Homo sapiens: one gene and its partners. The protein of the gene in region 1 purifies or fractionates together with the protein of each later gene. This does not show direct contact. Each region holds a gene or a part of one and is shown in the gene's direction. Other genes may lie near its edges.

Evidence for each region.
Region 2: the proteins of PRICKLE1 (region 1) and INAVA purify together in Homo sapiens (co-immunoprecipitation; one large-scale study listed by IntAct). This does not show direct contact.
Region 3: the proteins of PRICKLE1 (region 1) and ARHGEF10L purify together in Homo sapiens (co-immunoprecipitation; one large-scale study listed by IntAct). This does not show direct contact.

What each region holds. Positions count from the first base shown.
Region 1 is NC_000012.12:42,467,630-42,471,280, reverse strand, and holds part of PRICKLE1 (prickle-like protein 1), read left to right. Parts: intron 1-921; coding exon 922-1,035; intron 1,036-1,693; coding exon 1,694-1,831; intron 1,832-2,451; coding exon 2,452-2,655; intron 2,656-3,651. UniProt on the Homo sapiens protein: Involved in the planar cell polarity pathway that controls convergent extension during gastrulation and neural tube closure.
Region 2 is NC_000001.11:200,908,252-200,911,902, forward strand, and holds part of INAVA (innate immunity activator protein), read left to right. Parts: intron 1-478; coding exon 479-689; intron 690-972; coding exon 973-1,146; intron 1,147-3,201; coding exon 3,202-3,651. UniProt on the Homo sapiens protein: Expressed in peripheral macrophages and intestinal myeloid-derived cells, is required for optimal PRR (pattern recognition receptor)-induced signaling, cytokine secretion, and bacterial clearance.
Region 3 is NC_000001.11:17,546,147-17,549,797, forward strand, and holds part of ARHGEF10L (rho guanine nucleotide exchange factor 10-like protein), read left to right. Parts: intron 1-3,651.

The sequences.
Region 1 (3,651 bases):
AAAAACAAACAAGCAGAAATTAAGTTTTCCTTTCAGAGTGAGCAAAGTACAGCTCAATGTGGCTTCTCTCCAGTTTGCCTGGGGAGGCTGACTTCAGGTATTCAGAAAATAGCACTCATGGAAGCAAAGAAAGCTGATGTTTGAGAGAACCTGATAAAGAAGAGTTTACAACATTTAGCAAAACAGCCTTTGTCTTTGTGTTGTGTAAAATTCAGAGAGCAAATTAAATGTGTTCGTGTAGTGGCTGGATTTTGGACCATTTCACACAGTCTGTGTAGTAATTTGCAGGATTCACCCAGGACTCTCTCTCTTGCTGATCTCTTGTCTGACCCCTTGGAAGACTGGCTGAGGAGGAGTAGTCTTTTTTTTTTTTTTGAGACGGATTCTTGCTCTGTCACTCAGGCTGGAGTGCAGTGGCGCGATCTTGGGTGACTGCAACCTCTGCCTCCCAGGTTCAAGCGATTCTCCTGCCTCAGCCTCCCGAGTAGCTAGGATTACAGGCGTGCATCACCACGCCCAGCTAATTTTTGTAGTTTTAGTAGAGACAGGGTTTCACCGTGTTGGTCAGGCTGGTCTCGAACTCCTGACCTCAGGTGATCCACCAGCCTCAGCCTCCCAGAGTGCTGGGATTACAGGCGTGAGCCACACCACCGGGAAGAGTGGTCTTAAATGTGCATATTTTATGGTGCATAATTTATGATGTCCCTAATTGTCACTACAAATTACATTCCTGAAGAGCAATTTAGCAGCTGGGTGCTAGTTATCTGAAGGTTTGCAGTTCTGCTGAGTTGGCTCAGCTGGTCTTCTCATTAGCTACAAGAGGCCAAACCCTGTACCTAGGGAAAGGTAACTTTTAAAGATTAAGTGAGCTGAGATGCTCAGTTCTGTATGTTGATGCCATTCTCACTGTCTCTTTTGCAGATCCAGCTCTATTTTGCTTGCTTACCAGAGGAAAAAGTTCCTTACGTTAACAGCCCCGGAGAGAAGCATCGGATTAAACAGCTTTTGTACCAGTTACCACCACATGATAATGAGGTAAAATAGCAGGAAGAAGGCTAATTAGAAAAAAGAAGAAAAAATGCATGAGAAGCATTGAGATGCTGCTCATAAACCCCAACTCCTCACTGGCGAGGGCTCCCTTTTGCCTTTCTTTAGTTAAAATTTGGCCAGAGAATACAGCTTTCCATTCTTTGAGAGAAAGAGAGAAAAGAGTATCAGTGTAATAAACTTAACACAAGTTGGTTTTTATAGTGTTTGCAGCCACCCACCAATGATCAGGAACCTACAAATTCCTGAGATTTCCCAGCCCCTGCATCCAGAGTGAATGCTTTATGGTCATTCAGGCCTGCAGTTGAGTTGAGTGCATGTAGAATGGAGAGTAAAAGTGGCAATTAACAAGTTTAAACCTTTTGTGGAAAGGTTAATGTCCTATATATATTTTTTAATTCTGTGTTGATAAGGGTTTTCAATTAAACATTTCTTATTTAAAAAAAAAGTATTCCTTCACATTGCATTTCCCTTTTTCTAGAGAGGCTGTAAAATTCAGATATGGTGTCATTTTAAAATCGTGGGGGTGTGACACAGGCGAGCTAAACTTACTGTTTCACTTCCTGAAACCCTAACTCTGGAAGTAGAGAACTGGTGAGAAAGACTGTGCACTCAGTGTGGTGTTTCTGTTTTGCTTTCTGTGAAGGTACGGTATTGCCAGTCTTTGAGTGAAGAGGAGAAAAAAGAGTTGCAGGTGTTCAGTGCTCAGCGGAAGAAAGAAGCACTGGGAAGAGGAACAATTAAGCTTCTGTCCAGAGCAGTCATGCATGCTGTGTGTGAGCAGGTGAGCAGCCCCTTCTCTGATGCGTAGCTTGTGGCAGTGATGTGGATGGGGTGGACAGTCGGGGGTAGGTGACTGGACTAGCAGAGGTGTGGGTCCTGAAAGCCTCCAGAAAATGAGAGAAAGACAGCCTAGCTTTTTATTAAATAGCAAATCATGTTTCATATTTGTAACTAGCTACACTGCTGTGTATGACAGCAGGAGTCAGTCACCCTTATGCAAACATTGGGTGAAATCCTGCCTTTGGTAGGATCCTGGCATGGAGGTAGGTGCTAGGATACATCTCGTATTCAAAAGATGCAGAAACATAATGAAGACATTCAGATCTTTGCTGGCAGTTCTCAGAGTAGGAAATGTATCCAGCAGGAGGCTGGCACAGGAAAACCACTATTTGTGTGAATCAGATTACACCGTCCTTAGAAATAGTTGTAGTATGTCTGAGACACGTGCCTTACAGTGGAGAATCACCAGTAATCCAGCATTAAAGAGCTATTTAATCACTAAAAGAGGTAGCAAAAATAAATACATTCCTGACAAATTCGAGATTTATCCTAAAGTAGGAAAGCCTGAGAATCCTGTCTTTAAAAAATGATCCTTTTACATTCAAACCCATTTGTTTGTAGTGTGGTTTGAAGATAAATGGAGGTGAAGTTGCAGTGTTCGCCTCCCGTGCGGGCCCTGGTGTGTGCTGGCACCCATCCTGTTTTGTCTGTTTCACGTGTAATGAGCTGCTGGTCGACCTCATCTATTTTTATCAGGATGGAAAAATTCACTGTGGCAGGCACCATGCAGAACTGCTCAAACCACGGTGCTCAGCATGTGACGAGGTAAAAAAAAGTTCATCCTTTCACACTGGGAAAAATAAGCTTAGATTAAGCCAATATTCCACTGTTTACATCAAGCAAAATACTAAAATTTCCTGGATTTTGTTCTGTGTGCATGTTTTAAACATAATCCTGTACATTCATACAATGAAATGATCTATATTTGGTTGCTGCAAAAGTAATTGCGGTTTTTTGCCATAATGGTCAAAACCGCAATTAATTTTTCACCTTCCTGATAGAAAGGGAAGCAGATGTCTTTGTACTTTGATAAGTATTATGTCTTCAGTGGGTTGTGAGAAAATACAAGCTGCAGAAGAGCATGTAGTAGATGGTCTCATTTTTGTTAAGAATTTAAAAAACAATATGATATATGTATTTGTTTATGCTCAGAAAAGGTATGGAAAGACAAATACCAAATTAATAGTAGTTACCCTCGGGGAAGGTGGGAATGGATGATGGCTTGAAAGGAAAAATTTTTTCCCTTTAGCTTTTTATTTTAAAATAATTTTAGATTTACAGAAGAGTTGCAAAGCTATTACAGAGAGATCCTGCATGCCCTTCTCCCAGCTTCCCCTGACACTAACGTCTTACATAACCATAATATATGTATCAAAACTAAGAAATTATCAGCAGTGTAATACCATTAACTAAACCATAGTCTTTGTTTAGATTTTCCCAGTGTTTTAACAGATGCTCCTTTTCTTATCCAAGATCAATCCAGGGTGCTTCATTGCATTTACTCGTTGTATCTTCTTAGTCTCCTTCAATCTATGACAATAAACTTTGTTTTTATTTTTATACATTCATTTACTTTATACATTTTTTTCAACAATGTTCTATTTGAACATATTTTTGTTTTTGTTTTGTTTTGATTTATTTTTTTGGGATGGAGTTGCTCTCTGTTGCCCAGGCTGGAGTGCCGTGGTGCAATCTTGGCTCACTGCAACCTCCGCCCCGCGTGTTCAAGTGATTCTTGCACCTCAGCCCCCCGAGTAGCTG
Region 2 (3,651 bases), on another chromosome or scaffold:
GAGCAGGAAGGAAACACAAGTCTATAGATTAAGAACCCTGTGTACAAACCATGAGGATGCCAGGGTCAAGGTGGATCGAGAAGCTGTTGCAGTCCTGCCCAGGGGAGTGCCCAAGCCAATAAGGAAATAAATAGGCCATATGGGCATGGCAGGAACAAGAAAAATAGGTAAACAAAAGATAACTGCAGACATGGTACCAGGAACAAAGGTTAGAAAGTGGAGCACTGTAAGCCCAAGAGAGTCAATCTGGGAGGCTTCTTGAAGGAGGAAGGCATAAAATAGGGCTGTGTGGGAAGAAGTAAGTCCCAAAGGAGAAGAAAACATGTTTGAGCATCTAGGGCTGGAGCCATGGCCTGCAGCAGCTGCACAAGCCAGCATGGGAGGGAGAGCGGCGAGGCATGGGCTGTGGTTTGTGGAGGTTCTTGTTGGGCCGGTTCCCCCAGCCTCTGGCCTTACCAGGTTTCTTTTACTCCTGCAGAGGAATCCCAAGTGCCAAAACCTCCTCCAGAGTCTCCAGCCCCACCTTCTCGGCCTCTCCCACCCCAAACCCTTGAGGGTCTGCAGCCAACAGGACCTGAGGCTGGGAGCCCAGAACGGGCTCCAGTCCAGAACAGCCCCTGGAAGGAAACCAGCCTGGACCACCCCTATGAGAAGCCCAGGAAGTCTTCTGAGCCCTGGAGCGAGTCCAGGTCAGGATCAGGGGGAAGGGAGAAGGGCAGGGCAGGGCAGGGAGTCGGTGGGAGCTATGCTGGGGATGGCTATAGGCTGGGCAGATGGAAAAGTGGAAAGGTGGAGGAGAGAGCTCCTGCAGTCGTGGGATGGAGGTGTGAGCCTTGATAGTTCCCCAAGGGTGCTGGCAGTTTGCCCTACTAACTTTGGGAGCCCCTTCCACTGCATCCCCATTCTTCTGCACCTCTTGAGCCCCTGAATGGAGGCATTCCTGCCACTGACCTGTCTCTAATCCTTTTGCAGCAGCCCAGCCACCACACCACAGGATGGGCCCAGTGCCTCCAGCCTGTGGCTTCTGGAGCCTGCCTCCTACCACGTGGTTCCCATCCGTGGTGTTCCTGGCCAGTGGCAGGGCCGCACCAGTGCCCCAGCCACCCCTGAGATACAGGGGAGGAGGGGCCAGTCGCAGTCTCTGAGGTAAGAGACAGCTTCCCCAGAGAGATGGGGGACCCACTTAGAGCTTATCGTTGGAGGGTGGGAGCTCCCAGGACACAGGTGGGACAACCCTGGGTGACACATGGCTAGTGCCTTGACTTCTCTTAGGATCTCTTCTTGGGGCGCCTCTTGACAGAGAATGCACTGCACCCCACTAAGCCAAAGGCCATCCATGAAGCAAGTGGTTTTCTTCCAAAGACTCTAGTTTTGTCTTTTTGCATAACTTGATTCAAATTTTCTACCCTTGCCATGTTTCCTTGTGCTGGTAGATTATTATTGGTCACTGACAATAGGCAACTCACTTTTTCAATTGATGCACAGTTGATTCTCATTATCTGTGGTAGTTATGTTCTATAAAGTAAAATTGACGCAAATCCTGAATTAGCAAATACTGAACCCTTGCCCCTGGGGAAATATAGGGTTAGGTTCCCGTGAGCCTTTGGTCACGACATTTTGCATCAACTGATTAATATATAACCTTATGTTATGTGAGTTTCTGCTTAAGGACACCTTACTTAATATGGGTTGTTGATTCATTAACTCATGGCCAACAGCACTGTAACTCATACCCAGATGAAGCTTACCTAGCACACATATTTTCTCCACAAGGCACACCACAGCCTTTTCCCAGTATGCCTTAGGGAGGAACAGTAGACAGCACTTTGGCACTGTATTTGGGGGCATTTTAAACAGCAGAATCACTAATCAAAGCAAAAACACACACAGTACATAAATATGCCACAAAAAGGACACTGTGCACTTACAGCATGAGAACTGAAACATGAGGGCAGAACATGGCCTCGTTTAACCTCAGAACTTAAAGAGACTCAAATTTGTCACTTTTCTGCAGTGTCCAAGAATGACCATGAAAGCACTGTGTATATTGCTTTGGGGATTAAAAATAAAGTTTAGCAACTAGGAAAATTACAAATACTGAATCTGCAAATAATGAGAATTGACTGTATGTTACTTTCTAAGTCATCTGCTACTTGGTAATAGTTTAAATGGCTAAGCGTTGACAGGCAGTATTGGCCATACCATATGGGGACTGGGGCACCATGAAAGCACTGCTGAATTCTCCATCAGCTTAAATTGGCTGGTCAGGCAGCACTGAACTGGGGGCAGCTTGGGACAACTGCTCTCAAGTAAAGCAATGGATTTTGTTTAATTTTTAAATTTTTTTTGAGGCAGAGTCTTGCTCTGTCATCCAGCCTAGAGTATAGTGGCGCAATCTTTGCTCACTGCAACCTCCGCCTCTCAGGTTCAAGCGATTCTCCTGCCTCAGCCTCCTGAGTAGCTAGGATTACAGGCGTCCGCCACCACACAGCAATAGATTTTATATTTTACATGCTACGAGGGCCATTTTACAAACCATGCCTTTGTGCAAATTAGGAAAAGGCAGACACAGCCCCATACCTGGGTGCATTAGTAGAGTGAAGTGAAGGCTGGATTTCAGCCCCTGCCGGTCTTGGGCTGCAGGTAACTGCTCTGGGTACCACATGACAGCTTTTACACGTTCAAGTAAGGTACCTGGCAGTGCCTACCGAACAGATGCTGTGGATGATCTGCCACTGGACACGGTGTACCTAAGCTGAAAGTACTTAATGTAGTACTTTAAAAAAAGTAGTTAATGTAGTACTTTAAAAAAAGTAGTTAATGTAGTACTTTAAAAAAAGTACTTAATGTAGTACTTTAAAAAAGTACTTAATGTAGTACTTTAAAAAAAGTACTTAATGTAGTACTTTAAAAAAAGTACTTAATGTGCTACTTGATGTAGCACACTTTACACGAATCACAAGCTTGTGAATGCAGCAGGAACACTTTTGCACACAGGGAAGGAATGCGTTGGCACCCACGCAGCCCGGCAGAGGGTTTGTTGGTTTGCTTTGGGAGACTTGACCTAAGACCCTTGCACGAGGGCCATGCTTGGGCCTTGAGGTAGAGCAGGACTCACCTGTTTTAACTCCACCTCCCGCCCCAACCCCAGTGTGGAGTTTCTGCCCCCCACACTCAGAATGCCTCTCTTTCCCTCTTCAGGGTGGATTCCTTCCGGGCGGGTCCTGAGGGCCGAGGTCGCAGCGCCTTTCCCCGCCGCCGCCCCACTCACTACACGGTGACAGTGCCAGATTCCTGCTTTCCCGCGACCAAGCCCCCGCTGCCCCACGCCGCCTGCCACTCCTGCTCAGAAGACAGTGGCTCTGACGTCTCCAGCATCTCCCACCCCACTTCGCCGGGCAGCAGCAGCCCCGACATCTCCTTTCTGCAGCCTCTCTCCCCTCCCAAGACCCATCGTCACCGCGGGGCCTGGGTCCCAGCCGGCAGCAGAGAGCTGGTCGCCCACCACCCCAAGCTACTGCTGCCGCCTGGCTATTTCCCGGCGGGGCGGTACGTGGTGGTGGCTGAGAGCCCCCTGCCGCCTGGCGAGTGGGAGCTGCGCCGCGCAGCCCCGGGCCCTGCTTACGAGGAGGAGGGCACTCCCCTGCGCTA
Region 3 (3,651 bases), on another chromosome or scaffold:
CCCTAAAAATCTTTGAGGTTTCTTGGTAGTTTCCTGCTGTCCCTGAAGCTTGCTGGTCTTCCAGCCCCTGCATCTGTGGCTGGTGGATTCTCAAAAAAAATCCATGTTAATATCAAGCACAAAACTTAATTGGGAAGAGGGGTCTCCTGTTCTCCCCCCATTGCTAATTGATACCAGAAAAGCTGCTTCTGTCCTTCATTTAGGCAGATAATTGAGAACTTGTTTGCTTAAAGGCAACTGATTTTGACTTTATGCCTATAGGTGCCAGATATTTTTCATGCATCAATTCATTTAATTTCCATGCCGATCCTGCAAGTACGTCCTATTTTCCGATCTTATCGATGAGGAAATTGAGTCTCAGAGACTTATCCAAGGGCACTGTGTTTGTAAGTGGCAGGATTTGAACCCGGCAGGCCCTGAGATCTTTCTGCAGTCCCGTGCTCCCCTCCTTTATGCGGTTTTCCTTTTCCCTTTGAGGAGGGGAGGGAGAGATTCATCACATGCCTGGAATCTCAGCACACTTTGCCTTTCTTAGTTCGGAGTTAATGTATGTTTTTTTAATTCAGTGTTGGCAAGGCCCAGTCTGGTCATAGCTGGGTTTGTTACCTTGTGGCTCAGGGGCAAGGATGAGAATAGAATTCTGGTACCCACACGGGCTCCCTAGGCCTGGTGTCAGGAAAGAGCTAATACTAATGGCTCATAATTGCAGAGTGGCAGGCACCTTGGTAGTGCATGGCTCGTGGGAGCTTTCTCAGTTCTCAGCTACTCCAAGAGGTGGGGTGCATCATTATCTCTGTTTTGCCTCCATTGAACTTGCCCAGGGTTGAGCAACCAAGAGTTAGAAGCACCACATTCTGCTCGCCCCGGAGTCCTGCCTCTCCACTCTTGTGTCTTTCCTTGAGCAGCGCCAACCCTCCCAGGGCCTGGCCCGGCTGTGCCTTTGACAGCCCCTAGCAGCAGTGCCCATATGCTATGGAAAATGGGGAAGGATAATTGACCACTTGGCCACAGGCCCAGGGTCTGCCCACCTCTTGGTTAGAGCCAGCACTGAGCTCCCTGCCATGGGGTTCATCTTCCCACTGGCCTGTTGGTTGAGAGGATGGTCTCAGACCAGGCCCCAACACCACCTTCTTGCAGATACATCCCCAGTCCAGGGCAGTGCAGGTGGTTTGTGATGGTGCCAGCCCATGTTGGCATGTTGGGCCCAAGATGAGGTGGCATTTCTGAGTTTTGGAACCCCTCTTTCTCCTTGAGAGCCTGGCCCCAGAGTGCCCTCCTCTCTGTAAAAGTCCTGGTTCTAGTCGCTGGCTGATTGGTATGCATCCCAGAATCCCGGCCATTAGCATACAAGGCGGGAGCCAGCTCTCATTACTCCCCTCTCTTCATTGTTTGAAGTGGGCAGACTTGGAGTGAGCTTTGGAAATGTGGGCTTTTTATTCAATTTCCCTAGAAAAACAATGGTTAAATTAAGTAGGAAAATAACAGTCTCCCGAAATTGAAGAAAAATATTCCTGAACCTAGACATTACCCACAACCTTTGAATTTCTTTTAAAACAGGCATTTGTTTTACTTTAAGTTATACATGTATCGCATGACCACTGAAGAAAACACAGAGAAAATACAGAGAGAAGAAAATGGAAATCATTTTGCCACCTGAAGACAGCCTCTCTCAATATTGTGGTGCATATCATTCATGTATTCAGTGATTCATTTACTCATTTGGCAAGTATCTATTTAGGGCCCACAAAGGGAGAGGCTGTGTTGGGTTCTGGGAGTAGACGCTGGGAGTAGAGGGGTACCCTGCTCCCTGCTGGGGCTCTTTCTATGTTGGGCCTTGGGCAACTCACTTGACCCTTCTCTTATCTGTTTTCTCATCTGTGGAATAGGGATAACACTAGTAGCTGTGTCATAAGGCATGGAGATTTGACAAGAAAGGGCAGGTAGGATGCTCATGATATTGCGTGGCCCAGGTCAAAGCTTAGTAATGTTGGCTTTTGTCATGTAGGGGAGGAATATCTTTTCTTCTACCCTGTTAGGTTCTGTGATAGAGCCTATGAATTAAACTGACAAAAGACAGATTAATAGGAGAAAAGGCATATAGATTTTATTTAATGTTACTATATATATGTATTTTTTTACTGTAAGGGGTCTCCATAGAAAAGAAATGAAAATCCAAAGAGGCAGTTAGACCCAGGAGCTTACGTAACATTTTAACAAAGGGCGATAAATTGTGGAGAAGTGAGGAGACAAAAGAAAAGTATTGGACTCTTAGGGGTCAGTAAATTTCAGGAAAGTGACTAGGAAATGTATGGTAGATAAGGGTGGTTTAGTAAGGTTTGTTATGCAGATAAAGTAAGGTAGAGGGGTACACCTTTGCAAATGGAAATTTATGTCACCTTTACAAAGGGAAATGTGTGCCCTGCTTTTAGGCAGAAAAGGGGAGGCAAAGAGCTCTTCCTGTATTGGCTGCTGCTCAAGTACCTTGAGCTCAAAATAATTCTTTTTTTTTTTTTTTTTTTTTTTTTGAGACAGCATCTTGCTCTGTTGCCCAGGCTGGAGTGCAATGGTCTTGGCTCACTGCATCCTCTGCCTCCTGGGTTCAAGCAATTCTCCAGCCTCAGCCTCCTGAGTAGATGGGATTACAGGTGCGCACCACCACACTCAGCTAATTTTTGTATTTTTAGTAGAGACAGGGTTTCACCATGTTGGCCAGGCTGGTCTTGAACTCCTGACCTCAAATGATTCTCCTGCCTCAGCCTCCCAAAGTGCTGGGACTATAGGTGTGAACCACCACTTCTGGCCCTGGGATGGCATATTCTGATCCTTTTCAGTTACAACAGTGAGTAAGCTGACATTAACCTTGCCCTGGTGGTTTTGTTTTTGTTTTTGTTTTTGAGATGGAGTGTTGCTCTGTCACCCCGGCTGGAGTGTGATGGCATGATCTTGGCTCACTGCATCCTCTGCATCCTGGGTTCGAGCGATTCTCCAGCCTCAGCCTCCTGAGTAGATGGGATTACAGGCGCCTGCCACTATACCTGGCTAAGTTTTGTATTTTTAGTAGAGATGGGGTTTCACTATGTTGGCCAGGCTGGTCTCGAACTCCTGACCTCAAGTGATTCTCCCACCTCAGCCTCCCAAAGTGCTGGGATTACAGGTGTGAGCCACGGTGCCCAGCCTCGTGAGTCTTATATGATGGTGGAGGAGACAAAAATCAAACACATCAAATTTATAAAGTAACCACATGTTATGCATTAAGTCCTGTGAAGGAAACAGACTGGTGGATGGTGATAACTGGGGATGAGGGGTAGAGAGGGTGTATGTGGGGGTGGGGGTACAGGATTCGTTAGCTGCAGGTGGTCAGGGAGGCCTCTCTGAAGAGAGACATTTAAGCCAGACCTGAATGACAAGCAGGAGCTCCCCCTGCAAGGATCTGAGGGAAAAGTATTCCGGGTAGGAGCTACAGCAAATGCAAAAGCCCTGAGGCCAGATGAACTTGGCCTGTTTAGGAGGGTGTGGAAGAGGCCATGTTAGTTAGGACTGTTACTCTAGGTGCAAAAGGAAACCATCGGAGGTTTGTTTTCCACTTCCCATAAATACCTTTACTAATGAAATATAGTTCCAAGATTCCAGCTAGTAAAAACTCTGTTAAGA